Homo sapiens: one gene and its partners. The protein of the gene in region 2 purifies or fractionates together with the protein of the main gene of each other region. This does not show direct contact. Each region holds a gene or a part of one and is shown on either strand. Other genes may lie near its edges. The genes, in order: CSE1L, USP19, TMEM33, PDHA1, NFE2L1, SPNS1 and ACADSB.

Region 1 (3,069 bases), on a different chromosome or scaffold from region 2:
CTGCTTGGGAGGCTGAAGTAGGAGCATCACCTAAGTCCCAGAGGTTGAGGCTGCAGTGAGCCAAGATTACACCCACTGCACTCCATCCTAGGTGACAGAGTGAGACCCTGTCTCAAAAAAAAAAAAGAAAATATTGTAAGGGCCTGGTGCAGTGGCTCTCATCTGTAATCCCAGCACTTTGGGAGGTGAAAGTGGGAGTATTCCTTGAGTCCAGGAGTTAACGACCAGCCTGGGCAACATGGTAAGACCCTGTCTCTACAAAACAGCCAAGCATGGTGGTGTGTGCCTGTAGCCCCAGCTACTCAGGAGGCTGAGGTGGGAGGATCACTTGACCCTGGGAAGTTAAGGCTGCGTGAGCTGTGATCACGCTCCTGCACCCAGCCTAGGTGATAGAGTGAAACCTTCTCACAAGAAAAAAGAAAATATTTTAAGATGTTTGTGTTCTCCAAACATTAAGTTAGTGTTAGTCATATTGTGTTCCAGAGGTTGGTTTATGGTTGGATACCAAAACATTTTTTCAGTAGAGAGAATATTATAAGGAAATATAAATCAAAGAGAGACAGCATGTAAAGGTCTATGACAGAAAGACAAGTTTTCTATTTACTAGAAGGCAGGTATTGATGCCACAGCCTTTGGATGTTAATGATTAAGCATAGGTTTATTTTGCAGACTTATCAGTTACCAGTTTAGTGCGTGAGTTCTCTATGCTGATATTCTGCATCTTCTTTCAACAGGTTTTTTAGTCTTTATTAATTTGTATTGCATAAAATATGGGGCACTAGCACTACAAGAAATATTTGATGGTATACAACCAAAGTAAGTTTGTTTTTATTATTTTTTAAAGGAAGAAAATGTTTTGACTTTTTTTTTAGTACAAATCAGTATCTCTGTCTTATAGATGATGATGTGGTTCTTGGTATGGAGATAGTGTCTATGGTTTTCAAAATATTCTTAGGTATTGGGAGTAAAGAAAAAGTAATCCTGGCCCAGCATGGTGGCTCACGCCCGTAATCCCACACTCTGAGAGGCTGAGGAGGGCGGATTTAGCTCAGGAGTTTGAGACCAGCCTGGGCAATATAGTGAGACTCCATCTCAAAAAAAGAAAAAACACCCTGGAATCATTGTTCTAATCCTCTAGATTAGAGGACCATCTACTCTACACACTGGCATTCTCCACAGCCAGTGTTCTATATTATGTTAAATGGTCAGTGTTGTCTCCAGGAGCCTGCCTTATTAAAACTAACAGCAGAAAACACCACATGTTCTCACTCATAGGTGGGAATTGAACAATGAGAACACTTGGACACAGGGCGGGGAACATCACACTCTGGGGCCTGTCGTGGGATGGGGGGCAGGGGAAGGGAGGGCAGAGGGAGGGATAGCATTAGCAGAAATACCTAATGTAAATGACGAGTTAATGGGTGCAGTAAACCAACTTGGCACATGTATACATATGTAACAAACCTGCACGTTGTGCACATGTACCCTAGAACTTAAAGTATAATTAAAAAAAAAAACCAGAATTTTCCTTCCCCCTTTTTTAAAAAATCGTGCTAATCCATATCGTTCCAATTTTAGTATATGTGCTGCTAATGCAAACACAGCAGAATTTTTCAAATGAGAAATACTTAGGACCAATAAATTAACTTTGTTTTTGACTTATCTGGTATATATGCAAAGAATGTATTTAGGTGGCATTTCCCATTAGTAGGGAATAAAACAATTATAACGATAAGATAAAGAACAACTCTTAGGGAAAATTTCTTCGGGGACAGTTAGATCCCTGTACCTCAGTTATGTCTCAAAAATTCTACATTGACTAAAAAATGAATTACTCTGGAAAGGAGACCAGAAAACATGGCTTCCGGCAGTAGGGGATTTTGAGGAAATCTCATGCACTGCTAGTGGGAGCCTGAATTAGCCTGATCTTTCTAGAGAGCAAAATGTATGCACTTTTTATCCAGAGCATTAGAATTGCCATACCCTTTGAGCCATATTTCCACTTCAAAGAATTGGTTCTATTAACGCATAAACTGAGGATTTTGCATCATTTAGAATTACGGAAAACTTCACTTCTAGCATGTTTGCAACAACATAGAATGATTGGCCGAATTATTTTAAATAGCCATTAGCATTTATGTACCTGCAGGTATGTAAGCAAAGACAGTTGGGAAGCTTATAACCCAAAAATGTTAAAACTAGTTGTTTCTGGGTGGTGGGATGATTCCTTTTTTCCCTCCTTGCTCCTCTCTCTTTTTTTTTTTTTTTTCTTTTTTTTTTTTGAGACTGGCCAGGTGTAATTTTTAAAGAAAAAAGCAGAGAGGGCCAGGAATGGTGGCTCACGCCTGTAATCCTAGCACTTTGGGAGGCTGAGGCAGGTGGATCACCTGAGGTCAGGAGTTCGAGATCAGCCTGGCCAACACAATGAAACCCCATCTCTACTAAAAATACAAAAATTTGCCGGGCGTGGTGGTGGGCACCTGTAATCCCACCTACTCAGGGGGCTGAGGCAGGCAAATTGCTTGAACCCAGGAGGTGGAGGTTGTAGTGAGCTGAGATCACACCGTTCCACTCCAGCCTGGGCAACAAGAGCGAAACTCCGTCTCAAAAAAAAAAAGAAAAGAAAAAGATTATGGCATTTGGCTACAGGGTAGAGGTGTGATGGGGTTTTTTTATGTTTTGACTTTCAGTCTCTTCAGATGATCAAAAACAGCAGTCTTGTTATTTAGTAATTTATCATATTCATAAGAAGTAACTAACATCTAAGCATTTTACTATTTCATTATAGTGATAATCTAATATTAAGTTGATTTATTTTGCTTTAATAGAATGTTTGGAATGGTTTTGGAAAAAATTATTATTCCTGAAATTCAGAAGGTATCTGGAAATGTAGAGAAAAAGATCTGTGCGGTTGGCATAACCAAATTACTAACAGAATGTCCCCCAATGATGGACACTGAGTATACCAAACTGTGGTAAGTACTTCATTTTAATATTTTTGTAAGTTACAGCTTCCTTCCCATATGACTGCAAAATTAACAAAGCTTATTCTCTTGGGGGCCAAGAGAA
Region 2 (3,274 bases):
CAGCTGTTGCTATGGCGCCTGCCAAATGTTCTCATCGTGCAGCTCAAGCGCTTCTCCTTTCGTAGTTTTATCTGGCGTGACAAGATCAATGACTTGGTGGAGTTCCCTGTTAGGTAAGCAGTGGACCTTGGTAACTGTGGGTGGGGTGTGAGGACCAGGATGGGCATCCTGAGCGCCTGTTGCCTGTCTCACCCCTCCCTGACTGGACCTGACCTGCAGGAACCTGGACCTGAGCAAGTTCTGCATTGGTCAGAAAGAGGAGCAGCTGCCCAGCTACGATCTATATGCTGTCATCAACCACTATGGAGGCATGATTGGTGGCCACTACACTGCCTGTGCACGCCTGCCCAATGATCGTAGCAGTCAGCGCAGTGACGTGGGTGAGGGCACACACAGCCAGCAGGATAGGTGGTAGGGGTGGTGGTGCAGACTTTGTTCACACTCTTCCCACCCTGCTGTAGGCTGGCGCTTGTTTGATGACAGCACAGTGACAACGGTAGACGAGAGCCAGGTTGTGACGCGTTATGCCTATGTACTCTTCTACCGCCGGCGGAACTCTCCTGTGGAGAGGCCCCCCAGGGCAGGTCACTCTGAGCACCACCCAGACCTAGGCCCTGCAGCTGAGGCTGCTGCCAGCCAGGTGAGGCATGTGGGAGGCTTTACAGAATACTGGGGGACAGTTCACAGACTGGGGCCGGGTTGGGGGATATAGCTTCCTCTCCTCCAGCCACAGGCCCATTGAGCCTTGGGATTCATGAGAATTGCAGAGTTCTCTTAACATCAAAGCTTTAGCCAGAGGCATCCCCATGCCTTGGGGACACTAACAAACATACAAGTACACTAACATGCTGCCACTGGCAAGCACATTGGCACCTACTTGGCACAGGTCAGGCAACTGCTCTGAACCTCACTGGGCACTATGCTGTGAATGAACTATACCTGACACTCTCCTAGATTTCCTCTGCACATTCCCCACATGCTGGCCCACACACCCTCACTTGTGATGTCCCTGAGTTCTAGTGTGCACTCAAGACAAGGCCTATTTGGGCTGGCCATGGCCTCTGGTGGCTGTTATACTCTTTGAGGTAAGCATCTGTCTTTGCTGAGCCTTCAGGATCTTCTCTTTAGTGACATGGTGTGCCATAGGCCCAGTTAGTGGGCGTAGGCACATCTCTTTTCTGGACTGGCCGTCTCCTTTCTGGCTCCATCCTCTCTTGAGCCTTCTCTGTCAAGCTTAGAGAAATCCTTGCAGAAGACTGGTCAGGATCTGGGTATGGGTGGGAAGGAGCAAGGAGATTGCTCTGGGATTGGCAGTCCTGTTCTCTATGAATCGGTGTCCTTTGGGGAGGCCTGGACTGAAATACTAACCAGATAACTCCCCTCCCACCTCCATGCGGAGCTGCATGTGGATTGAGAGCTGTTTAGGGTAGGCCAAAATGCTGTCAAGATTCTCTTACCCTTGTGCTCTTACTCTGGACAGCCCTGAGGTTGGCTGCCTGCCTTCCTCCTTGCTGTTTGATCTAGAATGCAGGGTGTTAGCCCCAGTCACCCCAGGTGGGACTGTCATGGCTAAGGGTCTCAGGGACACTGGGTCCTCCCCACCCCCGGGGTGCTGATGGCCGTTTCCACATACCCTAGGCTTCCCGGATTTGGCAGGAGCTGGAGGCTGAGGAGGAGCCGGTGCCTGAGGGGTCTGGGCCCCTGGGTCCCTGGGGGCCCCAAGACTGGGTGGGCCCCCTACCACGTGGCCCTACCACACCAGATGAGGGCTGCCTCCGGTACTTTGTCCTGGGCACCGTGGCGGCTTTGGTGGCCCTCGTGCTCAACGTGTTCTATCCTCTGGTATCCCAGAGTCGCTGGAGATGAGCTCGCCTGCAGGCAGCTGCTGTGAGCTGGCCTACCTGCCTGCCCCAGGCCATGCCTGCCTTTGTTGTGGGGAACACCTCTGGGCTTTGGGCCTCAGCTTATGCATCTGGTGGGAGAGGGTGGGGAGGTTGTGGCCCCTGCAGGGGCAGAGTATCCTAGGGTGTGTATCCATCTGGCTGTCTGTCCATTCATCCTGCTGCTCTGACCCTTGGCCTCAGGCTTGGCCCTGCCCAAGCTACTTCCTGTACTTAAAAGTGTTAATAAAACCAGACTATTCAGGCCCAATCTCGTCTCTCTGTCTCAACGCCGCTGCTGTCTGCGCCTGCCTTGGGACCCTCCCTTGGGTGCCAGGGCTCCAAGCCAGCACCCCCGGGATGCCAGGCGGCATGCTGGGCAGCCCCCAACCCCTGTCCTCGTATTCTGTTGCAGGGACTAGGCCCTGGCCAGGCCCCCGAGGTGGCCCCCACGCGGACAGCCCCTGAACGCTTCGCCCCCCCTGTGGATCGGCCAGCCCCCACCTACAGCAACATGGAGGAGGTGGATTAGCAGGTCCCTGGCTGATGGGGGGGACTGGGTTTGGGACACCCACACAGAGGGCCAGCTCCTTGCCGCTTCTCCTTCTCTAACCCAGAGGACACTGGCTCTGTCAATGGGAAGCTGAGGGGTATGATTTGGGTGTGGAGACCTCTCAGGTTGGGACTTCTTGTCAGCTTGGACCCCTGACCAGTGGGCTTTGGCTTCTCCAGCCGCCTCCAGTGCTGCGTGATTTGATTCTGTTGTACCTTCAATTCTTCTGACCCGCATTATAAACATTATAATTTTATTCTAAAAATTGTAATTTTTTTTGCATTTTGGAAGTGACTGCTGCTGTTTAAATATATTTTAAAAATAAATAATAAGTAAGTAGACTTAGTGACTGTGATCCACCACATGCTGGGGCCACCTCCCCTCCCCATCATTTGCGGTGTGTATGTGTGTGTATGTGTGTTTATATATGAGAGACCCTGAAAGTGCCCTAGTCTGAAGGGAGATGATGGGGTCCCAGCTCATGTCCTATGGGTCATGAAGCCCCCAGTGCTATCAGCTTTTTGGAGCCTACCTGCTGCTCTTTCATCCCACTGGTTCTGGATCCTACATAAGAGGCAGCTTGGTAGGCATCGTCAGGATCTCAATATAGCCAAGGGACAGAGGAGTATATGAAGCACTGGAGCTGACAGCGTGGAGTAAAAGGTGCATTCACCAGAGCAGCCTGGGGCTGACAAGTCAGGGAGGACTTGGGGGACAGAAGTACTGGGAGATCTTCCTCCTCCTCTCCTGTCCTCAGCTTTTTCTTTGCTGTAACTTGAACACTAACTGCATCCCTGCAGGTAACAGAGCAGGAGGAAAACTGCTGTGGGGCAGATCTTGC
Region 3 (3,500 bases), on a different chromosome or scaffold from region 2:
TCTTTTTATATATATAAAATAAGTCACTTTTCATTTGCATATTTTATGAAGCTTTACAACTTGATTTCATCAATTAGTAATTACGGAATTATTTAACATTTTCTGATTTATTTAGTATTTTAAAAAATTTCAAAAGTAATACAGATAAGAATACATTTATAAAAAAATTAAACAACATTTTACTCTTTACCAATCATGTACATTCTTTTATATCCTTTTTTAAGGATAACTTGGATTTAGACATGATAGATTTCACTATGACCATTTGATGAATGAAGATACACATATTCTCCAGTTGAATTGCTTTTAAGTTTTGAGAGTATACACATGAATTGAAATGTATATTTATCACGCTTGTATTTGTTTATTTCAGTGGTCAAGGAAGTTTGCTCCAACCTTTTATATACTATAGATTTCTTACCCTTCGATATTCGTCTCGAAGAAACCCATATTGTCGGTAAGCTGATGATTATTTTAGGCATGTTTTATTTGTTGAGAGTATTGTGAATATATAGTATTCGCAATTCTTAAGAGTTACTTAGCTAATGTGTTAGACTTTAGAAGCAAGCAGTGTTTTTGTAAATTTAAGTTCTAGGCCTTAGAATGTACTGGGGTTGGTGAGGAAGTGGTTGTATTTGTTCTTAGAAACTGAGACTGCAGTTATCTACGCCACCTCTAAAGCACTGCTAAAACTTAGCAAATTTTAAAATGTATAAGACATAGATTCCACTCTCAACTTTCCTAGTTGAAGAAACAAAACACGTGTCAATTAGATAAACAATGGTTAGGATACAGAATTCACAAGCCAATAGATAATGAATGCCATATGTTTGCTTTATTATATCAGTACTGCAGTCCACAGAAGGGAGAGATCATTGGGCCAGAAGATAGATGAGCCCAGGAAGGTTTCACAAAATTGAGATTGTGGGAGGAGTAAAGCTTTTGAATAGGGAAAAGCATTTTAGGTGGGGCAAGAGAGACGAGAAGCACAAGCCATATTTGAGGAACTTTATGTAGAGCTGTTTTGACTCTAATGGAGATTCTGAATGGCTAATTGCTGGAGCTAAGATTAGAAAGGTATATTGGAGCTATATTATAAAACTTCTTGAGTTTTAGGGTAAGAAGTTTGGAATTTATCTTTTAGGTGAATGGGAATGATGGTTTTGACATCGTCAGAATATTCTTCTGATACCCTTGTGCCAGAAGAGTTTGAAGCAGAAAAATGGGGAAGCAGAGAAATTTTAGGGAATTACTGTAGTTTTCAGGAATGGAGGCTTAAATTAATATACACTAAATTATGCATTCTGATCTCAAGCATTGGAGTAAAACTAAAATGATACTCAAATACTAATATTAAGATAATCTATTTTTAAGTTTAAAATAATGTAGAATTCAGCTAGAAATCCAATGAGTGCATTACAGCAATCTGTATATTTTCATAAGTACAGTAAAAAGAACTTGAATTTGAATGCTGGCCCATCATTAACTAGTTGTGTGACTAGGCAGGTTATTTATTTGGATTTCTTCATTGGTAGAGGAAATAACTCCTTCTGGGGGTGAAGCGAAGTAATATTTTAAAAGTACTTAGACTGTTATGTTCTTACTAGTTCATTTTCATTATTCTATGATCTGATTTTCTGTTCAGAGCGTTTTTATGCTCTATTAGACAATGTCTTTTTTATAATACTTTCTAAAATAGAACTTATTTTAGACATTCGTTCTTAGTGAGTCTCTAGTAGCAAATTAACATTCATTTTTACTTGATTTCTTGAGTTTTAGCCTTTTTTCTTTCTGGTCCCTATATTCATTTCAGACATTATCTTATATTCTCTTGCCCTGACATCTGTTATTTTAATCAGCATATTTGTTTTTCTGTGCTTCTTTGTGCCTCCTTCTCCATTCCCATTTTCTTCACATACCCTTAAATCATATTAGTACATCTAGAATTCAGTTTTCAGTGGACTGAAAAGGAAAGGATAGCAGTGAATCAAGATAACACAAATATGTGCTGGTAAACATCTTCAAAGCTGTCTTATAAGCACCCATTTTAACCAAACCAGTGGAAAGGTAATGGAAAATATTTCAGCTTGTAAATATTGATAAACAGGCTATAAAACTACATTTTCAGTACTACACTTTTTTTAATTAAAGGTTTTGAGACCATCTCTATTCACAATTTGTACCATTTTCACCTACGATATTTATTCTCAAGTTGGTGGTTTCAGTTGTTTTTGGATCTCTAGTGCAGATTGTCTATAGCTGTGCTGTCCAGTACAGCACAGCAACCACATTTGACCTTTAAATAAAATTCATAAAACTTAGAACTTGGTTCCTTTTGAGCACAGTTCAGGTGGGTACTCAAAAGCCATGTGTTGCTGATGGCAACTGTGGGTCAGCACACATATGCAAAAATTTTGTCATTACTCAAAGTTCTGTTGTCAGTGCTATTAAGGAACTCTCTGACTGGTCCTTCAGCACAGATATGCAAAAATTTTATCATTGTTCAAAGTTCTGTTGTCCGTGCTGTTAAGGAACTCTGACTTGGTCTGTGCCAGCGATGCAGCCAGTAATAAAAGAACTATGTGACTTTAGTGAAAGCGATTGACTTCATTAGTCCTCATGTCTTCTAGCTTTATTCATTTGACTGATTGGTTAAAACAGTGATTGTATGTTGATGAACTTATGTGGAATTAAAATATCTTCTTTCAGAGGTACTCACTGCTGAATAAATTAGACAGCTATGTAAGTCAGTGTGATGATGAAGGTGCTCTGAAAGCATAGAGAACAGACAGAGACAAATAAGAATTCACTGAGGAGGTGGGAACATAAGCCAAGTCTTTTAAAGAATGAGCCTGAGTTCTGACACATGGGTGCCTGAAAAGTGCTTAGCATACTTGAGCTCAGGAAGTATATAGAGAATTGATAAATATCTGTGTCCACAAAGGTAGATGGTAGAAAGGACTAGATCATGAAAGGGTTTGGATTTTATTTTGAGGTAAGGAGAGCCTTTGAAGATTGTAACATAGAGAGGCTGGGAACCCCCATGATGAAATCTGATTTAGAAATATTCCAGAAAATGGATTGCAAGCTCAGCAAGAGAAGAAAAATATCAATTTGGAGACTATTAGAGTAGTCTAGAGCCTGAATTAATCCAGTGGTAAAAGGAAAAGGGGACAAATATGAAAGGTATTAGGAGATAGGATATTAGGGCTTGAGAGAAAAGAGTAAATTAAAGACCCACAGGTTTCTGGCTTGGAAGCCTAAGAGTTGTAATGGTGCTCTCACGAAGACAGGAGATACAGGAAGGGCAGGTTTTGGAAAATTATGCATTACTCCAAATATTATTATTCCTGTCTTTCTGTGCAAGCATATTAAATACTTGTTTAGAAAAGTAGATTTGTTGCTTTTTTTCTAACCATAGAAGTAAAACAGGACACAAAAAGGTAGAATAGTAGTTGCATCTTTATACAGGATGAGTCAGCACATAAGGTGAAAATTGT
Region 4 (3,500 bases), on a different chromosome or scaffold from region 2:
GTGTTGTTTTTTTTTAAACCTAGGTTTTATTTTTCCTTTTGAAATGGAGTCTTGCTCAGCCGCCCAGGCTGGAGCAGTGGTGTAATCTCAGCTCACTGCAACCTCCACCCCCGGGTTCAAGCAATTCTCCTGCCTCAGCCTCCCGAGTAGCTGGGAATATAGTTACGTGCCACCATGCCCAACCATTTTTTGTATTTTTAGTAGAGACGGGGTTTCACCATCTTGTCCAGGATGGTCTCGATCTGTGGACCTCGTGATCTGCCCAAAGTGCTGGGATTACAGGCGTGAGCCACCACGCCCGGCCAGGTTTTATTTTTTAACTCTTGAATGCAGAAATGTTAGTGCTTACTGGTTAAAATAGAACATAGTATTTATATATTACTTTAGTGCTTTATTGAAAATATCGGAGGTGGGATAAACAGAGAGATAGGGTTGGAAGGAGAGTTTGTAGCAGCAGTGTAATTTCTGTGTCAGATTCTGGCCAGGAGTGAAAATGCAGGGCATTAATTAGTATCTCCCCTCATGGATTTCTGTGGTTCCTTTCTCGGTTGTCCTTAATGTTAGGTGCCCCTGGGCGCTGGGATTGCTCTAGCCTGTAAGTATAATGGAAAAGATGAGGTCTGCCTGACTTTATATGGCGATGGTGCTGCTAACCAGGTAATTATGTCTCTTAACTTCCCAAAAACAGTCTTATTTTCAAAGTCTTTAATATTTACAGTTGAATTTCTAAAGAAGTAGCATATTGCTTATTAGGTGAAATAGCAAGTCCTATGGCTAGCTCAAATTTGGTTGACTTATGGCCAGATTAGAGATTGACCTCTTAGCGTTGTTTCACAAGAGACTTACGGGGGCACATTCCTGTGAAGGAGCTCACCTTTGCTCTACATCAGTGCTTGGCAAAGGCCCTGTGGTAAAGGACCTCCCCACAACCTATTGCAAAACAATACAGACCCATTCTCTTGGATGTCCGGGCTGGCAGTGTCAAATTCGGATAATAGCGTCTGAGTCCTAACTCAGTTTCTATGCTTCTCTTGTTACCGAGTAATCCCCAGTCTGTGGCCAGCACTCTGTGAAGCCCTGTTCTAGAGGCTGATTCTTAGGTGCTGGTTCACTCTGGCTATCCAGTGGGCCTGATAGATTTCATATTGATCTTTTTTCCAGTGTGTTCCTTACTGCTAGCATGGCCCCAAAGAAACAAGTAGTAGTTGGTTTGTCACCTTCCTTAGTTGCAAGAGTATGATGCCTGCTACTTCTCCTCCACCACCCACCCCGCTTTCCCTCACCACCCAAAGCTCGGTTTTAGAAGAGGAGGCTTTCTGTGCTTTATGAAAGCTTTCTGTGCCAGGCAGAGCAGCAGCTGTTAGAGATGATGAAGCCTGGAGAAAGAAGCCAAATGAAACCCCTTTTCGTAACTACTTCCAGGGCCAGATATTCGAAGCTTACAACATGGCAGCTTTGTGGAAATTACCTTGTATTTTCATCTGTGAGAATAATCGCTATGGAATGGGAACGTCTGTTGAGAGAGCGGCAGCCAGCACTGATTACTACAAGAGAGGCGATTTCATTCCTGGGCTGAGAGTAAGGACACCTGTGGTGGGGCCGGGGCCAAGGCCAAGGCCAAGGGTATGTCCTTGTGCAGACCCTTGACGATCTTAGAAACATTGGAGAGTTTCATTCTCATACAGGAGCAGGTCATGTGAAAGTAAAATGGTTTGGGGCAGTTGGATTCATGCTTCGCCCCTCCCCTGTTTATTACCAGGTGGATGGAATGGATATCCTGTGCGTCCGAGAGGCAACAAGGTTTGCTGCTGCCTATTGTAGATCTGGGAAGGTAAGGCTCTAAAGCCCTCTGGGCTAGTGACATTTATCTCTGGAAGTTCAAAGACTGCCTCCCATGTGCCTGCTGAAGCTGTTAGTGGGTACCTGCTAATTGAGGTGCATGAGATGGAAGCAGAGTGAAGGGAGCAGGGCTCCTTTGGGTAGCTTGGTCTTGGTAGCTCACCTGCTGGGAAGCCTACGTTTCTCTCATTTGGGGGAAGTCCGTTCTGGTGCTTCCTCTGCTTTGGCCTGTCTTCATGACAACTGATTTGCCTTTTCCTTAGGTTAATTCTGTCCCTCCTCCCCACCCCCCATTAATCATGAGTCCCTTGAAGGAACAGATTGGGGATCCCCACAGTGTCCAGCATAGAATGTCATGTATACAATAGGCATTTAATATGTGTGTCTTATACAAATTAAACAGTATGGTAGAAGCTCGTAATCTTAGTCTTGCTCAGTCCTAAGGATCTTTCCCTTTTCAGTGTATGGCAGTGAGGGAGATGGTAAGAGGGAGACTGGCCTAAAGAGGTTTCACTTCCTTTGGCACTAGTATAGGCTTAGGAGGTTTGGGTGTTCTCCCTAAATCAGTGTTCTACAGCCCAGAAACAAGGTTTCTGAAGTTGGCACTTCAGCGCCATACCATGTACGTTTAGGCAGTGATGTGAATCAGATGTGGCCAGCAATGATGGAAATGTCACAAAGTGGAGAGACAGGGAAGTGAGGGTGGGAATGTAGTAACATTAAATAAGAGCTAATGAGTAGAATGAACTAGAGCAGGACCAAGACTACAGCTTGGGTACAATGGGCTGAGCAGTCTATGTCAGGACCCTAAGGCTGGGAGTGCCAGGCCCTGAGTGATGGGTATTGACGCCACCTCTCCCAATTCCTGAAAAGAATACATGGGGGCCAGCCCTGGCTGGAGACAAGGGGAGTTGTAGAATGTAGTTGTAGAATGTGTGACTTTCCCAAACAGATAACCTTCACAATTCTGAGTTAGGTGTTATTGTTTTGCCCATTTTGCAGACAAGGAAACTGAGCCATAGAGCAGTTAAAGGTACACAGCTACTCTGTCTTGGAGCCAGCTCCCCACTCGCCCATTTTAACTGCTGCACCAAACCAACCAAGGATCCTCAATGTTTCTCCACCCCAGTGTTCAGAGCCGTCTCCTGGAAGTGGGCTAGTGTAGAATGAGCGAGCCCAACTGTCCAGACTCCCAGCAGAGCCTTGGGGTTTGGGTAGCAGAGGTTGTTGGTGCCTGCCAACTTTGTTACACACTAGCAAGGTCTGTGAAGTAGGAGTGGCTGCCAGCCCCACAACACACCATGAGAAAGGAGCATGAGATGGAAATCTGTCTAGCCAATAGCAGGAGGCTCTAGAACATGCTCAGAGCCTTTTTCTTTTTTCACAGGGTCTCGCGCAGTGGCACACTCACAGCTCACTGCACCCTTGACCTTCCAGAATCAGGTGATCCTCCCAAGTAGCTGGGACTACAGGCGCACGCCACCATGCCTGGCTAATTTTTGTATTTTTTGATAGAGATGGGGTTTTGCCATGTTGTCCAGGCTAGTCTCGAACTCCTGGGCGCAAGTGCTCTGCCCACCTCAGCTTCCCAAAGTGCTGGGATTACAGGCATGAGCCACCATGCCTGGCCTTCAAAGCCTTTTTGATTCAAAACAAGCTGT
Region 5 (3,500 bases), on a different chromosome or scaffold from region 2:
CGCCCAGGCAGCAGCACGGGCGGGGCACCCTCCTCAGGCCCCTCGGAGCTAGCAAGGGGCCACCCTTCCAGCCTGGTGTGCTCCCTGAAAGCCAAGAGCTCCTTGCAGCCCCCTGTCCGGCTTCCCGGCACCGGCTGCCCTGGGGCTCATCTCGCAGACCATGACCCGCCTGGACCGCAGCTCTCACAGTGGTGGGGGCCATGCCAAAGGCAGCCGGCCCCTTAACTCTTTGCTGGCTGGTCACCGGGTGGCCCAGCCCGCCTCTGCTCCTGGGTCCAGGGCTTCTGTTCAGGTTGGTGTATGTGGGGAGACTAAAGTAGTACGTCTGGGAGGTCTTAGGGTCAGGGGGGGTTAATGGGAGAAGAATACCGACTTAGAGGTAGGGAGGAGGGTCTGATCTAAGGAAATTGCTTTCTGGAAAGTGTATGTCTGCATTTTAACCCCTGGATGGAAGGCAACACTTTAGGGTTTCTTCAGGCTTGTAGGGAGGGCTCGACTACAGGGGGGTGCCATGTATAGGAAGCCCAAATAGCTCTATTTATTGGGGTTATATGCTGTTAGTGGGGGTGGCAGTTGGTGCAGCAACTGTTCACGAGCCACCAGGGTAGAGCGGGAGGGAAGCATTTTTGGTGCCCAAGGTGGCAGTTGTAGCTGAGCAGTGATGGGGTTTATGTCCTTGAGGGGGTTGACTGATGGGGATTTGGTGAGTCCTGGGGTATGGTGAGGGAATGAGAGCACTGGTGTAGGGGACACAGTGAGGCTGGCCCGAGCAGGGGGTGGGGTGCACCCCTGGGGATCATCTGACTGCCTGAGCCTCCCTGGAATGGAGGCAGCAGCTAGGATCAGCTGAGAGGGAATTCTGGCGGGGATGAGTCTTGAGGTGAGCCTGGGCTTGAGGAGTTGTGGGTGTTCAGCCTTACTCTTGCTGCCAGCTGGGGAATGGGGAATGGCTATAGGAAGGGCTGGAGACAGCATGGCGTTGTCATTGGTTGCATCAGGTGGTTGGAAATGCAGGGATTTTCCTCTCTAGCCCACCCCACCCCTTTATGCAAATGAAATGGTACCACAGGCTGATGCAAGCCTGGCCACTGCTAAGTAATTCTGCATGACAATTCGCTCTTGCTTGCCATGGCCAGCTTCCTCCAAACCAAGTTTTAAGGGGTCCAATCCCCAAAGCTAGAGGTGTCTCCTGATGTTCCCCTTCTTTCTTATGTAGGGGGGAGGCGGCCCTGCCTTTTGTCTGGGTGTGTCTTGGTCCAGATCCTAATCCTTTGCACCCTTATGGTGATAGTCACACTAATGGTTTTGCTAGTGGCTCTTTTTTTTTGTGGGAAGGGGATAGTGTCTGGAAGTAGATGAATGAACACTTGCTGGTGCAGGGACCAGGGGGTAAAGGCTGGCAGGTGAAGAGCTGGGAGGGGCCCCACCCAGGACTAACTGGGGTGACACTAGGAGGGAACTCTGAGGGGCAGGACAAGGAAGGGACCTTGGGATCTTAGAGCTAAAGTCATGTGATCTGTCTTTCAGGACATAGATCTGATTGACATCCTTTGGCGACAGGATATTGATCTGGGGGCTGGGCGTGAGGTTTTTGACTATAGTCACCGCCAGAAGGAGCAGGATGTGGAGAAGGAGCTGCGAGATGGAGGCGAGCAGGACACCTGGGCAGGCGAGGGCGCGGAAGCTCTGGCACGGAACCTGCTAGTGGATGGAGAGACTGGGGAGAGCTTCCCTGCACAGGTACCATCGCCCCTGCTCACTGGGCTCTCTTCTTGTCCCTACTACCCTGACACAAACCAGGCTGGAGTTCTTCCAGAAACTTCCTTTAGAGAAGACAGGTGGTGTGTGGGGTGGACCTGAATTTCTGTTTTGGGTTGGGGTCTGTAAGTCACAGTGGCTGAGCCTTGGAAGGGGGGAGTGGAAAGCAGCAGATGCAGAATGGCCAGGCCGTGGCAACAGACAGTGCAAGGGAGGCAGAGCATGTAGCATCTTCCTGCTTGCTTCAGGACTCTTTCACTCTCTTCTGTTGTTTCTGGGAGTTTGGGACTCGGGGCCAGCCATTAGCCTGGGAATGGGAGGGAGACTGCAGGGCTTCAGCCATTCTGGGAAAGAAGCTTCAGCCCCAGGCAGCCAAGGCCCAGGTCAATCAGACTTACAGTTCCTGTTGCCACAGGTGCCTAGTGGGGAGGACCAGACGGCCCTGTCCCTGGAAGAGTGCCTTAGGCTGCTGGAAGCCACCTGCCCCTTTGGGGAGAATGCTGAGGTGAGCAGGACTCCAGTGAGAGTCCACCAAGTGAGCAGGGCAGCCTGTACCTGGTGTGTCCCTCCATGGCTGAGGGGCCAGCTGTTGGTTCTGGCCTTATTCTGGCTGCTGGGGGTAAATGCAGAGGAAGGAAGAACAGAAACAGGTCCAGGTGGTAATCTCTGGGAGGAAAGCACAAGGTTTTTCCTTCCCCCTTGTTAAAGCCTCTGTGTTTTGCCCTAGTTTCCAGCAGACATTTCCAGCATAACAGAAGCAGTGCCTAGTGAGAGTGAGCCCCCTGCTCTTCAAAACAACCTCTTGTCTCCTCTTCTGACCGGGACAGAGTCACCATTTGATTTGGAACAGCAGTGGCAAGATCTCATGTCCATCATGGAAATGCAGGTAGGATTGTCGGAACCGGGCACAAACCTATTGGATTTTGCACAGATTGTCTTAGCACTCAGTTGCTTTTCCATCTCCAAGGAGAGAAAGTGTAATACTTTCCCTGAATCATAGAGAAGTGGGGACAATGAGAAGAAACCTGTCCAGGTGTGTCCTTGGGGCAATGGGAGCTGGAGACAGGTAGGGTTTGGGTTAAATAAAACTCAGGACTCAGCCTTCCAAATCAGGGCCTGCCTCCTGGGTGTGCCTTCTTCCTTTCCTTCAGGCAGATAGGCACTTGGCTGAATGCTTCCAAGGTTGTGCGTTAATAATAGCTGACATTCACATGGTGCTTCACAGCCATCGTTCGCTCACTTGGCCCTCACAGTCATCTAGTCAGCCTTTATCTCAAAGGTGAGGAAATTGAAGCTCAGAGGTTAAATGATGTGCCCATCGTCACACAGCAAGTGGTGCAGCTAGGTTTTCTGACTTAAGTCTGGGTGTTCTTTTCACTGTGCTGATTTTGCAGTAACAAGGTAGTGTTTTCTTCCTCTCCCTCCAAGATGGGGGAGTCTGGCCAAACATGAGGAAAAGCTGATCAGTCCTATATTAGGGTGGAGCCTACATGGAAGAACCCATCTCTGCCAGGCCTGGTGGACGAAGCTGGGTCAGGAGCTGACACTGTGGGCTTTGGTTTATAGTATTTTGCCTTTACACCCATGCAGCTGTGCCTCTGTTGGGTGCCTGCAGTGTGTGAGCCCCAGGGGAGGGAGTCAGTTCCTAGTGAACAGTGGTGCTCTTCTCCCCTCCCAGGCCATGGAAGTGAACACATCAGCAAGTGAAATCCTGTACAGTGCCCCTCCTGGAGACCCACTGA
Region 6 (3,500 bases), on a different chromosome or scaffold from region 2:
TGGGATGTGGGGGTGTTGTGAATTCTGTAAGGAGAAGGCAGGCATCTCCTGTGCTTTAGTGGTTCCAGCTGGGGTGGGAGTGGGAGGTAGGGGTACCTGGGCTGAGCTGTGACTCTCTGCTTCCCCCTAGTGTTCATCTCCAGTTACATGGTGTTGGCACCTGTGTTTGGCTACCTGGGTGACAGGTACAATCGGAAGTATCTCATGTGCGGGGGCATTGCCTTCTGGTCCCTGGTGACACTGGGGTCATCCTTCATCCCCGGAGAGGTGAGGCCCCAAGCTGGCTCCTGTTTCTGCCCACACCCCCTCCCTGTCAGTCTCTGCTGCTGCTCCTTGGAGCTATGGCAGACTGGGCCTCAGGGACTCCTGCAGTTTCCCTGGTCCATGCCATTTTATACCCCTCCTTGCCTGAGTTAACCTGCCCCACCCCATCCTCCCCTTTTCTTCCAGAGCATTCTCTGTCCATTATCCCCTCTTCCCCTGACCACTGACTCCTTCTACTCCATACCTAAACACTCCAAACCCTACCTGGCCTGCCCTCTCTCCCTCCTCTCATTCCTGATCAGACTTCCTGAAGGGCCCCTAGAGCGTGGTGCCAGTGTGGGTAAAAGAGCAGCCGGGGAGATGCCATCACTCTGCCTGCACTTCCTCACGCCTGCTCACCCCTCGAGCGCTGCCACTGACTTCTGCTCCCACCACTCCACGGACCCTGCTCTTGCCAAAGTTAACAGTGGCCTCCTAGTTGCTAAACACAGCTCCAACTTCCTGGTCCTGTTCATGCTAGGAGCCTCTGGCACTGTTGACCCACTCTTCCTTCCTGAAACTCTCTCCTACCTTTGCGATGCCACACTCTTCTGGCTTTCCTCCTGCCTCCCTGGCTGTTGCTTCTTTGTTCCTTTGAAGCCTCCTCTGTCTGTTCTCACTCCACCCCAGAACTCTGTCCTCAGCCCCAGGACCTACGTACTTTCCTTGGGTGACTGTACCCGTCCTTAGCTTCAGGTGCCTTTGGTAGACACATAAACTCCCATCTAAGGTCACTTATTCATTAAAAAAAAAAAATTAAAAAACTTTCCCCTACCAGGCAAGCAGGGGTTGTCTTATTTAGACCTTTTATTGTCTAGTCCTTGCAATAGCTCTGTGAAAAGTTGTTGTTATCCTCCTTTTGCAGATGAGGAAACTGAGGCTCAGAGAGGTTAAGTTATTTTCCCCAAATCGCAGCTAGTAAGTGGTGGAGCCAGGATGCAAGCTCAGGTCTGTGTGATTCTAAAACCCAGGCATCTCCCGCCATCCCTGCTGCCTCTTGGGAGCGGGCTGGTGAGGTAGCCCGGAGGCTGGTTGCAGGCTGGGGTGCCACCTCTCCCCGGTCTCTCTCCCCAGCATTTCTGGCTGCTCCTCCTGACCCGGGGCCTGGTGGGGGTCGGGGAGGCCAGTTATTCCACCATCGCGCCCACTCTCATTGCCGACCTCTTTGTGGCCGACCAGCGGAGCCGGATGCTCAGCATCTTCTACTTTGCCATTCCGGTGGGCAGGTGAGTGGGCCTGGGGCCTGGGGGAAGGCAGAAGGGCCTGGTGTGGGGGACTGGACTGACTGGCTGTCCCCCCTTTTTCCCCTCTCTCCCTCCCACAGTGGTCTGGGCTACATTGCAGGCTCCAAAGTGAAGGATATGGCTGGAGACTGGCACTGGGCTCTGAGGGTGAGTCTGGTCTTGGCCTGGGGGTAGGTCAGCGACGTTCTCACTGATCCCTGTTTCCTACCTTTGGACCCCTTCCCACCGCCCATTTTTCTTTTAAGAGACAGGGTCTTGTTGTGTCACCCAGGCTGCAGTGCAGTGGTGCAGTCATAGCTCACTGTAGCCTGGAACGCCTGAGCTCAAGTGATCCTCCCACCTCAGCCTCCCAAGTAGCTGGGACTATAGGTGCCCGCCACCATGCCTGGCTAATTAAAAAAACTTTTTCTTTTTGTAGGCTGGGTGTGGTGGCTAACACCTGTATCCCAGCATTTTGGGAGGCTGAGGCAGGTGGATCACTTGAGGTCAGGAATTCAAGACCAGCCTGGCCAACATGGTGAAACCCTGTCTCTACTAAAAATACAAAAATTAGCTGGGCGTGGTGGTGCATGCCTGTAATCCCAGCTACTCGGGGGGCTGAGGTAGGAGAATCACTTGAACCCAGGAGGCGGAGGTTGCAGCAAGCTGAGATTGTGCCACTGCACTCTAGCCTGGGCGACAGTGCGAGACTCCTTCTCAAAAAAAAAAAAAAAAAATTTTGCCAGGCATGATGGCTCACGCCTATAATCCCAGCACTTTGGGAGGCTGAGGTGGGCGGATCACCTGAGGTCAGGAGTTCTAGGCCAGCTTGACCAACATGGTGAAACCCTGTCTCTACTAAAAATACATAATTAGCCAGGCATGGTGACGCATGCCTGTAATCTCAGCTACTCGGGAGGCTGAGGCAGGAGAATCGCTTGAACCCGGGAGGCAGAGGTTGCAGTGAGCAGAGATCGTGCCATTGCACACACAAAATTTTTTTTTTTTGTAGAGATGGGGTCTTTGTATGTTGCCCAGGTTGGTTTTGAACTCCTGGCCTCAAGCAATCCTCTTGCCTTGGCCTCCTAAAGTGCTGGGCTTACGGGTGTGAGCCATGCGCCTGGCTCCAAATACCCCTTTTTTGGGGCAGCTCTCATTCTGCTGAGCCTGCAGGAGACTGGCTGCCCTCACCTGGAAGCCATGTGCTAGACAGAATTCTTGCGTGCAGGTGACAGAAGCCCATTGTAAAACTGTAAGCCCCCTAGAGGCCGGGTGCGGTGGCTCACACCTGTAATTCCAGCACTTTGGGAGGCCAAGGTGGGTGGATCACAAGGTCAGGAGATTGAGACCACCCTGGCTAACACAGTGAAATCCCGTCTCTACTAAAAATACAAAAAAAAATTAGCTGGGCGTGGTGGCAGGTGCCTGTAGTCCCAGCTACTCAGGAGGCCGAGGCAGGAGAATGGCGTGAACCCAGTAGGCGGAGGTTGCAGTGAGCCGAGATCGCACCACTGCACTCCAGCCTGGGTGACAGAGTGAGACTCTGTCTCGAAAACAAACAAACAAACAAACAAACAAACCGTAAGCCCCCTAAAGGGGCTGTCTTGGCTTTCTTCCTGAAAGTCCCAGGTGAGCTTCAGTCAGGTAAAGCTGGATCCAGGGCTCCCACACTGCCCTTCTCTTCTGAGCTTTACTTTCCTTTGTGTTAACATCATTCTTAAGGACGTGAGAACTCCAGATGATTACCTTTCCATTTAGCAACATTGGCACCTTGGACCCTGGGGCCGTGTTTCCAGGATAGCGTCTGACTAGATGAACATGCATCACGTGCCCTCTGCGGAATCCGTCACCGAGGCTGGGGTGGTTAACAGTCCTCTTGTTGGCCAAGCCTGGGATCCTATTTAAACCAAGTGGATTGAGAGAAGTAGGGGTACTGGTTTCCCAAAAGAAAATTACCAAAGAGGAGACAAAGCT
Region 7 (3,500 bases), on a different chromosome or scaffold from region 2:
GAGCTATGACAACCCAAAATGTCTCCATCCATGGCCAAATGTCCCGTGGGGGCAAAATTACTGGACTGAGAACCACGGATGTAGACCTGTGTAACAGTGTACTCCATGAAGGAGGGGAAAGGTGGCCTTTCTCCTTATAACCTGGTAGGGAACTTTCTCTCTAAAACTATTTGCCATACTCAGTTTGTTGGCTATAGAAATTGATCTACAGTTTCAAAGATTTTTGTTGAAAGATTTCAATAGCAGCCATTGAGATTTTAAGGTGCTGTTTGCAAAGGAGTTTACAAGATAAAACAGTCAGCAGCTCACAAAAGGAACTCATCACGTGAGACTCTGAAGCCACATCCCACTTAGACCATTTCACAAGTCCACTTTTAGAGTAACAAGGCCCTCAATGAGGGTGATAGCACCGATGATCAGAAAGGAAGACATGTTAATAAAAGAAGACTTGAGAAGATGTGGGAATTATCTTGAAATGGAGGAATTAGATGGACTACACATTTTCTAAATGAAATAGCTTAGTGATAGGCAAAGATTGGGACATCTGGAGAAAAAGTAATTTAGGGTGACAGAAGAAAGGTAATTCTGTTTTAGACACGTTTTAGGTATTAATAAAACTTACAACTGAAAGTGTCTTAGAAGCTGGTCAGAAATGGGTCTAGAAAGTGGACCAGTGCTAAAGCTATGGTAAAAGGAAAACTTCATCTGAATTAAATTTAAAGGAGTTTAATTGAGCAGCAAATTGGGCAGCCCCCAGAACCACAGCAGATTTGGAGAGACTCCAGGGATGCCTTGTGGTCATAACAAATTTATAGACAAATGAAGGGAAGTGACAAATCGGAAGTGAGGTACACAGTGGCTGGATTGGTTACAGATTTGCAATTGTCTTATTTGAACACAGTTAGAACACTCAGCAGTCCATGAGTGGTTGAAGGATGGCTGCTGGGATTGCCCAAGACGCAGCTACTGTTACAGGCGCATACTCCTAAGTTAGGCTTTCAATCTTGTCTACCTATTAAGCTAGGTTACAGTTCATCCACAAGGACTCAAATATAGACATACGGAGTCCTTCTCAGGCAATATTTAGTTTGCTTTAAGAGCTATAAATGCTAGCCAAAACCATAAATGGGTATGGGGCATCGGAAGGATAGTGAAGAAACAGGAGTGGACAAGTCAGCCTTTGGGGTACAGTTCAGACCATCCTGGGTAAATGTTGAGAAGCAAAGAAGCAAAAGGAGACTTAGTAGGATATCAGAGGAAATTCTGTGACATATGTGTTTTATTCAGAATTGGAGCAAAAGAAGGAAAAGGATATTTAAAAGCAAACATACAGAATTTGTGTCACATAAAAAAAACAAACCTGTGAGAGCAGAAGCGGTGTGTTTTGAGAAGTGCAAGACATGGCAGGGCCAGCTAATGGAGCTGGTGGAATGCATACTGAGGAGGTTGTGAACGTGGTTCATGCTCCCTTCACTCAATTTGGTAACCCCCTGTCCCCAGCCAGTGTTGAATATGCAACCCCTGATATGGAACTCTGGTCTTTTGGCATCTATTTAAGTGTTTCTTCTGACTATCTTCCCTGAAAAAGAGGGTGAGTTGAAGAAATTCCCAATGCCTGTTAAGTTGTTGGACCCAAGTAATTATGTGATTAAAAAAAAATTTAAACTCCATAATAGTCCTATCTTTTAAAATTTCTTTGAAAATAGAAGTGAGTGTCTTGTTTCATTTTTGTCCACTGGTAATTTGGGAAAGAGAAATTGTTGACTTGGCTAAGGTCACAATAAAGGCAAGCCCAACTCCTTTACCTTATATTTATTTATTTATTTTTTTGAGACAGAGTTTCATTCTTGTTGCCTAGGCTGGAGTGCAATGCGTGATCTCAGCTCACTGCAACCTCCTCTTCCCGGGTTCAAGTGATTCTCCTGCCTCAGCCTCCCAAGCAGCTGGGATTATAGGCACCTACCACCATGCCCGGCTAATTTTTGTATTTTTAGTAGAGACAGGATTTTACCATCTTGGTCAGGCTGGTCTGGAACTCCTGACCTCACGTGATCCATCCACCTAGGCCTCCCTAAGTGCTGGGATTACAGGTGTGAGCCACCTCACCGGGTGGACACAGTTTCTAATGGCCGGCATTTGCATGTCTAAGCTTGCTGTCCCAGCTTGAAGAGCCGGGCTTTCCTGCTAGACAAGAAACGTTCCTGGAGCTGCTTTAAAAGAAACAAAAACTTCCCAAGGACACCTTTTCCTCTCTATAGGCCTAAAATAATTTTTTAATAACTCCCATAATGAAAGTCGGGGGTGGCTTCCAGGCTATAGGTAAATTTAAACATTTTCTGGTTGACAATTGGTTGAGTTGGGCTAAAAACCTGGGGTGAATAGAAAGGAATGTCTGGGTTGTGATAAGAAGTTGTAGAGACCAAAGTTTAATCATGCAGATGAAGCCTCCAGGTAGCCGACTTCAGAGAGAATGGATTGAAATGCTTCTTATTAGGCCTAAAGTTCTGTGTTGATGTTCATGCTGGTGAGGTATAATGAGGTATGTTCGACCCCCACTTCCCATCATGGCCTGAAACAGTCTCTCAGGTGAAATTTTAAGACCCCTGGCTAGGGAGGAAGTCTGTTCAGCTGGTTTGGGGGGCCTTAGAATCTTATTTTTGGTTTACACATGATTAAAAAATACTTTAGCTCCATAATAATCCTATCTTTTAAAATTTCTTTGAAAATAGAAGTGAGTGTCTGGTTTCATTTTTGTCCACTGGTAATTTGGGAAAGAGAAATTGTTGACTTGGCCAAGGTCACACTACAGGCAAACCCATTTCCTTTGTGTTGATTCCCTTGCCTTGTGTCTTGTCTTGGCTTATTTAACCCTCTTTTGAGGGAATCACTATAATTCTTAAAAGGGCAAGGCATTGTTAGGAACTCCTAAAGACTAGAATGAAGAATCAGAGACTGGTAGATGGGAAAGGTTGCGTTTTTAGCAGTTTTGGAGAATACCTAGAACAGAAGCTATTATTTATGGAGAAAGCAAGCAGAGGTTGGACAGATTCTGGTATAGAAGTTTTGGCTTGGGGATATAAAATTGGGATCAACTTAAAATCTAATCCATTGGTACACTGCTAATAAAGGCATACCCAAGACTGGGTAATTTATAAAGAAAAAGAGATTTAATGGATTCGCAGTTCCACGTGGCTGACGAGGCCCCACAATTGTGGTGAGGAAGGTGAGGGAGGAGCAAAGGCACGTCTTACATAGCAGCAGGCAAGAGAGAAGTGCAGGGGAACTGCCCTTTATAAAACGATCAGATCTTGTGAGACTTATTCACTATCACGAGAACAACACAGGAACAACCCGCCCCCATGATTCAGTTACCTCCCACTGGGTCCCTCCCATGACACATGGGGATTATGGGAGCTACAATTCAAGATGAGATTTGGGTGGGGACACAGCCAAACCATATCAAGCAGGTATGAACAATTTGGCTTAGGAAATCAAAATCA

The links.
Region 1: the proteins of USP19 (region 2) and CSE1L purify together in Homo sapiens (affinity purification with mass spectrometry; one large-scale study listed by BioGRID and IntAct). This does not show direct contact.
Region 3: the proteins of USP19 (region 2) and TMEM33 purify together in Homo sapiens (affinity purification with mass spectrometry; one large-scale study listed by BioGRID and IntAct). This does not show direct contact.
Region 4: the proteins of USP19 (region 2) and PDHA1 purify together in Homo sapiens (affinity purification with mass spectrometry; one large-scale study listed by BioGRID and IntAct). This does not show direct contact.
Region 5: the proteins of USP19 (region 2) and NFE2L1 purify together in Homo sapiens (affinity purification with western blotting; one study listed by BioGRID). This does not show direct contact.
Region 6: the proteins of USP19 (region 2) and SPNS1 purify together in Homo sapiens (co-immunoprecipitation; one large-scale study listed by IntAct). This does not show direct contact.
Region 7: the proteins of USP19 (region 2) and ACADSB purify together in Homo sapiens (affinity purification with mass spectrometry; one large-scale study listed by BioGRID and IntAct). This does not show direct contact.

What each region holds. Positions count from the first base shown.
Region 1 is NC_000020.11:49,091,312-49,094,380, forward strand, and holds part of CSE1L (exportin-2), read left to right. Parts: intron 1-734; coding exon 735-816; intron 817-2,828; coding exon 2,829-2,975; intron 2,976-3,069. UniProt on the Homo sapiens protein: Export receptor for importin-alpha. Mediates importin-alpha re-export from the nucleus to the cytoplasm after import substrates (cargos) have been released into the nucleoplasm.
Region 2 is NC_000003.12:49,107,550-49,110,823, reverse strand, and holds the end of USP19 (ubiquitin carboxyl-terminal hydrolase 19), read left to right. Parts: coding exon 1-113; intron 114-219; coding exon 220-380; intron 381-461; coding exon 462-640; intron 641-1,638; coding exon of another isoform or gene 1,639-1,866; exon of another isoform or gene 1,867-2,151; intron 2,152-2,295; coding exon 2,296-2,412; 3' UTR 2,413-2,774; downstream 2,775-3,274. UniProt on the Homo sapiens protein: Deubiquitinating enzyme that regulates the degradation of various proteins by removing ubiquitin moieties, thereby preventing their proteasomal degradation. Stabilizes RNF123, which promotes CDKN1B degradation and contributes to cell proliferation.
Region 3 is NC_000004.12:41,948,929-41,952,428, forward strand, and holds part of TMEM33 (transmembrane protein 33), read left to right. Parts: intron 1-373; coding exon 374-457; intron 458-3,500. UniProt on the Homo sapiens protein: Acts as a regulator of the tubular endoplasmic reticulum (ER) network by modulating intracellular calcium homeostasis. Mechanistically, stimulates PKD2 calcium-dependent activity. Suppresses the RTN3/4-induced formation of the ER tubules.
Region 4 is NC_000023.11:19,353,927-19,357,426, forward strand, and holds part of PDHA1 (pyruvate dehydrogenase E1 component subunit alpha, somatic form, mitochondrial isoform 1 precursor), read left to right. Parts: intron 1-564; coding exon 565-657; intron 658-1,422; coding exon 1,423-1,578; intron 1,579-1,759; coding exon 1,760-1,831; intron 1,832-3,500. UniProt on the Homo sapiens protein: The pyruvate dehydrogenase complex catalyzes the overall conversion of pyruvate to acetyl-CoA and CO(2), and thereby links the glycolytic pathway to the tricarboxylic cycle.
Region 5 is NC_000017.11:48,054,859-48,058,358, forward strand, and holds part of NFE2L1 (endoplasmic reticulum membrane sensor NFE2L1), read left to right. Parts: intron 1-1,527; coding exon 1,528-1,740; intron 1,741-2,173; coding exon 2,174-2,263; intron 2,264-2,485; coding exon 2,486-2,644; intron 2,645-3,436; coding exon 3,437-3,500.
Region 6 is NC_000016.10:28,977,778-28,981,277, forward strand, and holds part of SPNS1 (protein spinster homolog 1), read left to right. Parts: intron 1-130; coding exon 131-267; intron 268-1,377; coding exon 1,378-1,529; intron 1,530-1,627; coding exon 1,628-1,694; intron 1,695-3,500. UniProt on the Homo sapiens protein: Plays a critical role in the phospholipid salvage pathway from lysosomes to the cytosol.
Region 7 is NC_000010.11:123,015,506-123,019,005, forward strand, and holds part of ACADSB (short/branched chain specific acyl-CoA dehydrogenase, mitochondrial isoform 1 precursor), read left to right. Parts: intron 1-3,500. UniProt on the Homo sapiens protein: Short and branched chain specific acyl-CoA dehydrogenase that catalyzes the removal of one hydrogen from C-2 and C-3 of the fatty acyl-CoA thioester, resulting in the formation of trans-2-enoyl-CoA.